Linked DNA regions of Homo sapiens. The protein of the gene in region 3 interacts with the protein of the main gene of each other region in a pairwise test. Each region holds a gene or a part of one and is shown on either strand. Other genes may lie near its edges. The genes, in order: NPHP1, PTF1A and SPATA7.

Region 1 (3,751 bases), on a different chromosome or scaffold from region 3:
GGGGTTTACTTTATAAATTATCTAATATTATTGTGTTATATTGTGTAAATTAAATCATATGCATACATCTAAGCTTTGAGGAGGGAAATCAATGTTAAAGCAATCTAAGGTCTTTATATTAGTCAAGGGAAGATTAATGATACTGATTACGTTTAGATTTAGTTGGGGTTCTTTCTTTTAAAAGTCTATTTACAGAAAACCTGAGCCAGTTAGCTCCCTTTTCCCCTCTCTGCTCTCCCTCCTTACCAGGGGATTCTTCCCTAAAAACAAAAAAACAAACAAAAACAATTAACAAACGACCTGAAGAGAATCATGACTGCTAAAGAAGTTTCCCATACACCAGGGTTAGAGCCGGCCCTATTCTGGCACTGGGGGATCCTCAGACTAAAAGCTACTTCCGAGCCTCTGATAAGCCCTATCAACATACAAAATTTCATTCTTATTCAGGGGATGGTACTAGCAGGAAGGACCCCTCTCTATCTAACAGTAGAAAAGCCCATGAGAGCTCTCTGGAATAATCAACCTAGTCCCTCATTGTTCAATAAAAATAGATAAGCCAGACCTAATAAAGAAAACCGGCAACGTGAAGATAAAATTTAAGAATAACCAAATATAAATTAATTAATTAACTAATTAAAAGGAATCTGAGCCCAGAGAAAGCAAAGACAATTCAGAGAACAGAAGAGAACTTAAGGAGAAAAAAAAAGCCTCCTAGTCATGGAAGTAGTAAGAAGGCAATCAATATGAAAACAGGAACATGATGCTATGAAAAAAGAACAATTCGAGAACAAGAGAAAACACTTGTAAATTAACAACATGACTGATGATGGCCAGGCACGGTGGCTCACGTAATCCCAGCACTTTGGGAGGCCATGATGGGTGGATCACCTGAAGTCGGGAGTTTGAGAGCAGCCTGGCCAACATGGTGAAACTCCGTCTCTACTAAAAATACAAAAAATTAGCCGAGTGTGATGGCGTGAGCCTGTAATCCCAGCTACTCAGAAGGCTAAGGCAGGAGAATCGCTTGAACCCAGGAGGCAGAGGTTGCAGTGAGCCAAGATCATGACAGAGTGAGACTCCATCTTAAAAAAAAAAAAACCAATATGACTGCTGAAATAAAACAATATGGCTGTTGAAATAGGTAATAAAGAAAAGTGTTAAAGTCAAGAGAATTGCTAGCATGGTAGCTCGTGGCGGGGGAGGGGGGCATCCCTTGAGCCTGGGAGGCAGAAGGTGCAGTGAGCCATGATTGTGCCACTTCATTACAGCCTGAACGACAGAGTGAGACCCCCCACATCCCCCCAAAAAAACATCTCCCATACAAACAAAGAAACAGAAACTATTAACAGGAAGTTATGGGATATAGAGGATCAGTCCAGGATATCCAATACCTGACTCAAAGGTGTTTCAGGAAGAAACAGACAAATGGAATTAACGAAATAATCTTTTTGTAAAATAAAATCTCCCAGAGCTCATGAGACATGAGTTTTCAAACTGAAAAGACTCAGAGCACTGAGCAGATAAAAATGATACCTAAATGACATTTTCAGATATGCAAATGTCAAAGTGAGTTTTTAAATGACAGTAACAATCTTCTTTTCATGCACAGAGAAGACTATGGTTACTTGGGCTTAAAAATAATTATTAGGGGCCGGGCGCGGTGGCTCACGCCTATAATCCCAGCACTTTGGGAGGCCAAAGCAGGGGGCATGAGGTCAGGAGATTGAGACCATCCTGGCTAGCACGGTGAAACCCCATCTCTACTAAAAATACAAAAAATTAGCCAGGCATGGTGGCGGGCACCTGTAATCCCAGCTACTCGGGAGGCTGAGGCAGGAGAATCGCTTGAACCTGGGAGGTGGAGCTTGCAGTGAGCCGAGATCATGCCACTGCACTCCAGCCTGGGCGACAGAGAGAGACTCTATCTCAAAAAAAATAAAACATAACAATTATTAGGCTGGGCACAGTGGCTCACACCTATAATCCCAGCACTTTGGGAGGCCAAGGCTGGGGGATCCCTTGAGGTCAGGAGTTCGAAACCAGCCTGGCCAACGTGATGAAACCCATCTCTACTCAAAATACAAAATCCAGCCAGGTGTGGTGGGGCACGACTGTAATCCCAACTACTCAAGAGCCTGAGGCAGAAGAATCGCTTGAACCTGGGAGGTGCAGGTTGCAATGAGCCGAGATTGCGCCACTGCACTCCAGCCTGGGTGACAGAGTGAGATTTAGTCTCAAAAAATAAAATAATAATAATTATGATTTTTAGTTTACTAACATAAAATTTAAAAACGTAGTTTTCCCTTGGCCTTCAAATTCAGTCTATAAATCTTACTCTGTTTTTAAATCTAGTAAAGCAAGAACAATAACCTTTGCTTTTCTTTCATTACTGTTAATTCAGCTTGAACTAAATCCCTTAATCAATCCTACTATTATAAATTAAATTCATTTGACATTTCAAAATTCATTTGTTTTGCCTTTAAGCACTCTGAATGCCTGACTTAAGTAAAACTTCTCCAAACAATTACAATTCACTTAAATTAATAGAATGAATCTCATGTTCTTTGGAATGTAATAAAATCCTTAAATATCTCAAAAACAAAGATTATCTTAATGATGTCCTAAACTTAATACAAATGTTATGAATTAATAGTCTAAATTTGATGTAGTTCATCACGTCTATTTAAACTCTCCCAAGGATTTTTTTTTAAGTAAAAACAAATACAAAACAAAAAACACCCACCTAGAAAACAGTGTTGTCTTCTCATGGGAGTTAAAGTTGACATCCCAATGAAGTACTAATTGCTTATAGACAGAGGTTTCTGACCAGGTCACAGGATCTGGGCTACATAGGCTAAGGATTTAGGGTAATCCTGCCCATGTCACCTATGTTTACATTAAGCAGTTTTTATAGTTGCTGTCACAACAGCAAGTCCGCAACCATCAGGTTTAGGTTGGTTTCTTCTACATTCAACTTACAACACTATGTGATTCTTCCATTTGATTCCAAAGGACCAATCTCTATGCCTTAAATACTATGCATTGAAATGTAAGTGCGGTTCCTGTAAAGCTTATATAATTTAGCATACTTTACCTTTGATAAATATGTTGTCTTTTATTGGGTTCTAGAGCTTCTTTCAGTTGGCTCTCAGAAAGCAAACTATCAACCTATGGAGACCATTTAAAATATCACATTATTAAATACCATATCGCCTTAGGAAAGAAAACTTCTTTTTTTATCCAATATTTTATAATGAACACTTTTAAACATACAACAAAGTTTTAAAAATTTTACAGTGAAAACCCATATACCCGCTACCTAGAAAAAACATTAACATTATACTATACTTATTTGATCTATCCGTCAACCCACCTTATGCCTTTCAAAGTAAGTTGCAGTTATCAATACATTTCTCCCTAAATAATGGACTATGGATGTCACTAACTAAAGTTCAATAGTTGATGTAAAATATGTATATAGTGAAATGCACAAATACGAGGCATACATTTGCTGAGTTTCGACAAATGCATACATCTGTGTAACCAAAATTCTTATCAAGATGTAGAAAACTACCATCACCCTAGTAAGTTCCCTCATGCCCTTGCCAGTAAATCCCCTCCTTATTCCTCCACAGACAAACCTGTTTTGATATTTTTCCAACATAAATTAGTTTTGCCTGTTCTTGAAATTTTATATAAATGGACTCATACAGTAAGCACTCTTGTGTAACCTTTCCACAAAGCATGTTTT
Region 2 (3,751 bases), on a different chromosome or scaffold from region 3:
TCTCTGGTTTGGTTAATTTTTACTAAGTTAATTCTTTTTAAAGAGTATCTATCAAATCATGTACTCAAAAACCTTCAGGAAAAGGTGTAAATAGCATTTATTGACAACGCTTAGAAATAAACCATATCTGGCAATAAATAAGCAGGACGTTTTCTGGCCAGAGTTCTCCCAACAACACAGAGTTCAGGAAAATCATAGGCTATTGCATATTTTCAGAAAATCAGGATAAGTTATATAAATTATATATTTAAAAAGAAATCATCTATTTCATCAACTCAACAGGATAATAAATAGATAAATAATAAACAGTTGATTGCCATTCGAAAAATTTGATTCTTAAATTACATTTACATTATAGATATTTACATGTACAATATGCACAGAGACATAATCAGATCTTCAGCCGAGTCTGGGACTTCTCAGGACACAAACTCAAATGGTGGTTCGTTTTCTATGTTGTTGAAGGAAGATTTGCTGTTGAGTTTTCTGGGGTCCTCTGGGGTCCAGACTTTGGCTGTTCGGATAATATTTTGTTCCTTGAGTTGTTTTTCATCAGTCCATGAGAGAGAGTGTCCTGCTAGGGGAGGGAGGCCATAATCAGGGTCGCTGGGGGAGGGGGACCCTGGACAGGTGAGAAGAGAAAACAGACTGTGAATATCCAACCACATTCCCATTGGTCCCATCAGGTCCTTTAGGACCCTTTCCTGGGTGCTCTCCGGTTATACTAGAACCACCCTCTTCCTCCACACTTCAAGTCCCCACCGTCCCCTCCCAGGAATCCGAGGAGCTGCAAGTCTGGCGGGGACGCGCGCCCTTGAGAGCCGCGGTCAACGTGGCAGAAAAATAAAAAAAAAAAAAAAAACGAGAAACGCGAGCTCGCATTCAAGTTTTTCCGTGCCCACCGACAATCCGTCGGTCCGACTGTCTGCTTGGCAGTCAGCTCCCCCAGCCCCTCCGGAGCCTTCGAGTGCCCGACCCCTTCTCCCTGAGCTGGGAAGCGGAAGCACTTACGGGTGCCCCGATGGCAGATGATGACCTTCTGGGCCTGGCTGCCCGGGCTGTCCCCGCCCAGGCGCCCGCCGCCGCCCGGCCCCCCGCAGCCGCCCGCGCCACCGCCGCGCAAGGGCAGGTCGGCCTGCACGAGCTCGCTGAGGAAGTTGATGTAGCCGATGGCCAGGCGCAGCGTGTCCACCTTGGAGAGGCGCTTCTCGTAGGGCAGCGTGGGGATGTGCGAGCGCAGCCCCTCGAAGGCGTCGTTGATGGACTGCATGCGCCGCCGCTCGCGCACGTTGGCCGCCTGCCGCAGCTGCTGCAGCTCCGCCTCGGAGCGCACCCGCCGCCGGCGCCGCGCCGCCGCAGCCGCCGCTCCGCTCAGGCCGCGCAGCCGCGCCCCGGGAGACAGTACTGCCGCCCCGGCGCACGGGTAGGCCAGGCACGAGGGCGGCGAGCCGGGCGAGTAGGGGAAGCCGCCTGGGGGCGCCCCCGTCTCGCAGCAGTAGCCGCCGCCGCCGCCGTCGTCTGGCTCACCGAGGCCCCCCGAGGACGGCGGGGCGAGCGCTAGCGGGGCGGCCGGGGGCGCGGGCTGCAGCAGCAGGCACGCCCCGTCGCGGTAGCAGTACTCGTGGAGCTGGTGGCTAAGGAACTCCACCTCGGCCTGCTCGTCCGCCAGCAGCTCATCGCCGTCCTCCAGGGGGTCCCGTGAAGACTGGTCGGTGAAGAAGTCGTCCTCGTCGAAGTACGAAGAAGGAAAGGCGTCTAGGCCCCCGGGGAAGTGCTCCAGCAACACCGCGTCCATGCTCGCCGCCGCAGTGGGCAGCGGGACTGCCGGGCTGCGCGTGTTAGTTCTTGGTGAGTTTCTAAGGCCCGTCCGAGCCCCTCCCTCCCGGGGCCCTGGCTGGGGGCAGCTAGGCGGCCGCCGGGCTGCCCGCCCCCGGGCCTCCCTGGAGTGCCCGCGGCCGCTGCGCTCTGGCCCGCGCTCGCGCTGCGCTGGGGAGGGCTGTGGCGGACTTCCTGGAGCTGAGGGCCGGCACGCGAGGATTCTTATAACAACATCCATAGGCGCGTGCCAGGGACCCATCGCGCCAGCCAATCAGAGCGCGGTGTGCCGGCGGCGAGGGGGCCCGGAGGCGCGGCGGTGGGCGGGGGTGGGGGGCGTTTTGCTCCCTTTGGGAGCTCCTGGGGCGAGGAAAAGGCGGGGTCGCGCGGCCCGGGGCTCCTCGCACCGCTCTCTTCCCTCTCCTCTGCCTCTGCATACTGGATTCTGTACCTGCCCCGCGTGCGGCTCCAGGGGCACCTGCGTCCCGCGGTGCCCGCTGCGTACCCGCGCGCGCTGAGCAGCGCCGGCTCCTTCCGCCCTGGGACTGGGGCAGCCGCGCGCCGCGTCTACACGCGGCCAGAGAAGTTCCTAGGGGTGCGCGCCGGTGGCCCAGACGGCGAGAGCGGAGCCCGCGCGGCGATCGTCCTCCTCCGCGGCAGCCTGGGCAATCTAAGGGTGCTGCCCTCAGGGACCAGGTGGGTGCATTCCGCCACCCCCTTATCCGAGGTGCGCGGGGCTCCGGCCTGGGTTCTGCTGGGGGCTTCTGTCCCATCTCTGGACTTTTCAAGGGCTTTTGCACAGTTTGCAGAGTATATGCGGGTGTCATTGGAAGGTGATCCGGGCCCACTCCCACTGCGTTCCAGACGCAACACGGGGGCTGGGAGCGCACCTATGGGACTCCGCTCTGGAGCCTGGCTGTGGTGCCTGGTGCGGGTCCCCAGCGACATCGGCTCAGTGGCTGCCTCCCCTGCCCTCCCCGGCCCGGAGAAAGGAATGGGGAGACGGGAGGGGCAGCCCCCAGAGCAGCTCAGCGGGGCGCGTTTCTTCTGAGAGCAAATCTAGACCCTAGGGATTCTGAGCAATAAACTGGATACAAAAGGAGTCCATTGAATCGTCTGCTCCGGCGCAGTCCGGAGGGAAGGCATTGAAGTTAAAGGGCAGAATGTGAATCGTTTTCAAAGCCCGAGTCTCTCACCTTTCCGACTGGCCACAGGGACCATCCCTGAATGACTTGTTTTTTTCTTTCTCGACCTTTCTTTTCTGAAAAAAAAAAAAAACACAAAACGTATGCAGCTCTGCCCCAAGACAGACTTTATCACAGACTGCGATGCAACGTGAATTCCTCTTTTTAAGAGCAACAAAGAAACACTTTCAAGGTCTGGGCAATTCCGGTTAAAAGCCAGGCTGCAGCTTCCACCCCGGGAGAGTTCAGAAGCGCAGCCATCGTGCGTATTCTCTCTACAGAGGACTGAAAGGAGTCGTCCTCCTGGGCCGCTTCCTTTTTCAGGCACTTGTCTCACTAGAGGCTTCTGTTGGGTATTCAGACGCCTCTCAAATTCCAAGTCATGCCTCTTCAGATTAGTGATTTAAATACGCTTCTTGGTTTTAGACATTGCACTGTAATTAACTGAATTGAGAACAAAGAGTTAAACCAAAAGATATATAAGGTTAGAAGGCCAGAGATTGCCTTACCTTGAACTGCCAACAACCCCAAACAATTTTAACCCAAGGACTGACTGGTTTTCAGTAGTTTTTTCCTGTGTTAGTTTCTCAGCCTTCACAGTGAAGGAGTCGTTCACTATTTGCATATCCTTAAAGGCAAATATGGACAGTTTCCCGGTGATAGAGCCTGAGCTGTGATTCTCTGCAATTAGATTTCTCTTTCTGACCTCAAAGGAAGGGAAGGGGTGTGTGTGTGTGTGTGTGTGTGTGTGT
Region 3 (3,751 bases):
CATGCCTGTAATCTCAGCATTTTAGGAGGCTGAGGCAGGAGCATCACTTGAGGTCAGTGGTTTGTAATCAGCCTGGGTAACATAGCAAGACCCTGTCTCTAGTATATAAAACAAATTAATGAATTAATTAAAAAGATAAGAAAACTGTATTTGGTACCTAGAATTACGGGAAAGTACTCAAAGAAGGACAATTTGAAAGAGAGTTTCTCCCAAAGACTGGGGTTCAGACCTCATTAGAGAAGGCGTGATTGTGCACTTGCCCAAAGCTTCATCACCGAGGAGTGATATCGGAGGCTTCACATTCCATGGGAAATAGACTTTGATAAATTGCTTAGCCAAGTCACTAAACAAACAAGTGAACAACAATGAAAACAAGCTCAGGAGAGGATTCTGTATCTAGAGTTGCTGCAATATATTACCTAAAATGTTAACTTTTCAACAAAAAGAAATTGCAAGTCATGCAAAAAAACAAAAACAAAAAAACAGGAAAATGTGACCTATACACAGGACACAAAGGAGGAACCAGAAACTATGAGAGGGTAGATGAATTAAATCGTCTTATTTCTCCCCTCAATTCTGTTAGGTTTTTTTTTTTCCTTTCTCTTTCTTTTTTCTTTTTTCGAGACAGGGTCTTATTCTGTTACCCAGACTGGAGTGCATTGCAGCCTCCTGGGCTCAATCATCCTCCCATCTCAGCCTCCTGTGTAGCTGGGACTACAGGCACACACCACCACACCCAGCTAATTTTGTATTTTTTTGTGCAGTTAGAGTTTCGCCATGTTGTCCAGGCTGGTCTTTGAACTTCTGGGCTTAGGTGATCAGCCTGCCTCAGTCTCCCAAAGTGCTGGGATTACAAGCACGAGCCATTGTGCTCAGCCCTAATTCTGTCATTTTTAATATGACATGTATCTATAGGAATATTAGAAACCAATGAGTATATGCCTTGGTGTACGTCTGATGGTAAATAGACAAGGGAACATAGACATCAAGGAACATCTAAATTCCATGTTTGTTCTTATCACCATCTTATGCTAAAGAGCAGCTGGATTGATTCCTGGGGCCAAATATTAACCACCTTGTTCACAGCTGTCACTTACAGATGGGTGGGGAAGCATTTCTATCCAGAGCATTATCACTAGGTTCCAGCCTTTTTTCATTCTCTTTTCATCCTTTCACACTTCTCTGGGTATACCTGTTTTTCCTTTTTCTGTGACCTATAGTGAAACATACATAGAATAGAATGGAATTTGGAGGGAATAAACTACATACAGCTGAGATATCTTCTTGGTCTGTTTCACATGATTTAGTAGCTTAGAACATGGTTCAAGTACTGAGCAGTTTATATTGGTCAAGATAGTGTAATGATTAAGACCCAGGAAACAGACTGCTTGGGTTCAGATCCCAAATCTGTCACATTCTTGTGTAATCTTTGGCAAATTACAAGTTTAACCTCTGTGCTTCAATTACCCTCATCTATAAAGTAGGGAGAATTATAGTATTGTAAGGATTAAATGAATTTATACCAGCAAAGTGCTTGGAGCACTGCCTGGCAGGGTTACCACTCAATAAATTAGCCTTTTGACTACAAATGAAGAAATCAACTCATACTGGTTTAAGCTAAAATGGGAATTTTTTTTTTTTTTTGGCTAATGTAAAGAAACGTCTAGGGAAGGAAGAGCTTCAAACATGGTTGGCCTCAGGTACTCAAATGATGTCACCAAGAAATCGCTTTCTATCTTGGTTCCACTTGACTGTGTAGGCTTCATTCTCAGACAGGTTCCTTTATAAGGTTCAGGATGGCCACCAGCAATACAGGGCTTGCTTAGACCCTTCACTGGGTTTAGCAAGCCCAGTGAAATGAAAGTACCTTTCCTAATAGTTCCTGTCAAAGGCCCAGGATTGTGTATCTCATGTTGGGACTTGGATCGCATAGCATTGCTGACGCTGTCAACACAGCTGTCCACATTTGGGTTTTATGCCTAACCCTGACAGTGGGGTCAGCTCTATTTGAACCACCTGGGCTAAGAGTAAGGGAAGAGTCGCCCAAAGGAAAGTTGAGTTGTCATTTCCAGGTGAAGAGGCATTGAATTCTGGACAAGAAAAAAGTCACAGTTCTTTCTATCTGGAGAAATGAGGTTTTTCTGAGAGTTTGTTGGTATTTTTTCTTATGTTTAGGTCTTACCCTCCTTCTTTCTTGGTAGAAGCTATGCTCATTTCATGACTATCTTTTTTCCCAGTTCAGATGGCATCACCTTGACTTGTATTGTCCTAAATATTTTTTTCCTTCCTGCACTCTGACCTGTGACATAGAAAGAGCTTCATAGATATTCTGACCTCAGTTTGTTTTTCTGTTTTAATCTATTCTGACAAGCTTTGTTCTCTGGTCTTAGATTTTAGTTCTCCTAGCTCGATACTTCTTTTTTCTATATTTAGTCATCCATATATCTTCTAGACTTTCTATGTGTCCTCCTTGTTATAGCTTTTAACAGCCCACCTGATAGCAAACTAGCCATCTTACCCTCTTAAAACATCTCTGTTTGGGGGATAAAGCATTTATATTTTGCATATTAAATTACATTTAATGCTGTAACTCAGACTTCCTGTTTTGGAGATTACTACTAAAAACGCAATCACCTTTTAGGAAAGAAATTATTTTGTGATAAATTTATTATTTAAAAAATATTGAATATTGTTGTTTTTGTAAAAGTTGTGTTTCATTTATCCTAATTTATGATTTTTTTTTCTTGTTAAAAGTCAGAGCAACCTCTGTCCTTCCCAGATATGGTCCACCGTGCCTATTTAAAGGACACTTGAGCACCAAAAGTAATGGTAAGTGAGGTGCTTAAAACGGCAGCTTTGTTAGAAGATTGTCTGAGTGTTTCCTTTACTGGCAAATTATATGACATGATGGAAAAATTGTTTCATTTGACGAATATTTGAACTTCATATTATTAATTTTAATGAAATATAGGCGTTCTTGAGATTAGAGAATTTTGGAGTCTATGATTTCAAACTATTATTGTGCCCTGGATGTGGACTTGGCTGTCTCCTGCTCCCAGCTGCTACAGCAGCCCAGCTCTACTTTTGCCAGGAAACTACCCTGATTTAAGGCATACCTGCCTTGTTAAAATGGTGAGTAGCAGGTATTAAAGACGCAAGCACTGAAAAGGAAAAGCTGTGCAGAGAAAAAGAGCACTTGAATAATACATTTCCTATTAGGAGCAAAGGCCTATGGGCCTCTTTATCCAACTGGATTTCTAGGTGCTGTGATATTTTTATATTTTAAAGCTTTCAAGGTACATTTTTAAGGTAGGTTTTAAAATAAATTTTTGTAATTATACCTTAGAAGTATAAGTCTATGTCCTTAGGCAAAATAATTAAAGCCTTATTTTCCTTATTTACAGGAAAAATCTTTGATACTGTTACCTCCAAATGTGGTGGAAGGATCTCATTTTCAGTTGCCTCACTTATTTCTTTGTATTACAGTGTATTTTTTAAAGTTTATGATTGTGGCTATGTATGTATGTAACATATATATGTATGTAACATAGCCATAATGATAAACTTTAAAAACTAAATTTTAAATAAAAAGTTAAAACTAGATTTAAAATATACATACATAGAAATCAGGATAAAGAACAATATGTAAAGTTTGCTAACTTTCTTTTAAAGAATATATATATAGAGCTGGTATAGGTATGGTGGTTTTAAGTATGAGGCTGCCTTGGATCACATGGAAGCTGCATCCTTT

The links.
Region 1: the proteins of SPATA7 (region 3) and NPHP1 interact in a protein complementation assay, tested with the Homo sapiens proteins (one study listed by IntAct).
Region 2: the proteins of SPATA7 (region 3) and PTF1A interact in a two-hybrid assay, tested with the Homo sapiens proteins (one study listed by BioGRID).

Annotation. Positions count from the first base shown.
Region 1 is NC_000002.12:110,198,327-110,202,077, forward strand, and holds part of NPHP1 (nephrocystin-1), read right to left. Parts: intron 3,169-3,751; coding exon 3,095-3,168; intron 1-3,094. UniProt on the Homo sapiens protein: Together with BCAR1 it may play a role in the control of epithelial cell polarity. Involved in the organization of apical junctions in kidney cells together with NPHP4 and RPGRIP1L/NPHP8. Does not seem to be strictly required for ciliogenesis.
Region 2 is NC_000010.11:23,190,575-23,194,325, reverse strand, and holds PTF1A (pancreas transcription factor 1 subunit alpha), read right to left. Parts: upstream 2,015-3,751; 5' UTR 1,796-2,014; coding exon 1,012-1,795; intron 623-1,011; coding exon 420-622; 3' UTR 81-419; downstream 1-80. UniProt on the Homo sapiens protein: Transcription factor implicated in the cell fate determination in various organs. Binds to the E-box consensus sequence 5'-CANNTG-3'. Plays a role in early and late pancreas development and differentiation.
Region 3 is NC_000014.9:88,388,627-88,392,377, forward strand, and holds part of SPATA7 (spermatogenesis-associated protein 7), read left to right. Parts: intron 1-2,754; coding exon 2,755-2,829; intron 2,830-3,751. UniProt on the Homo sapiens protein: Involved in the maintenance of both rod and cone photoreceptor cells.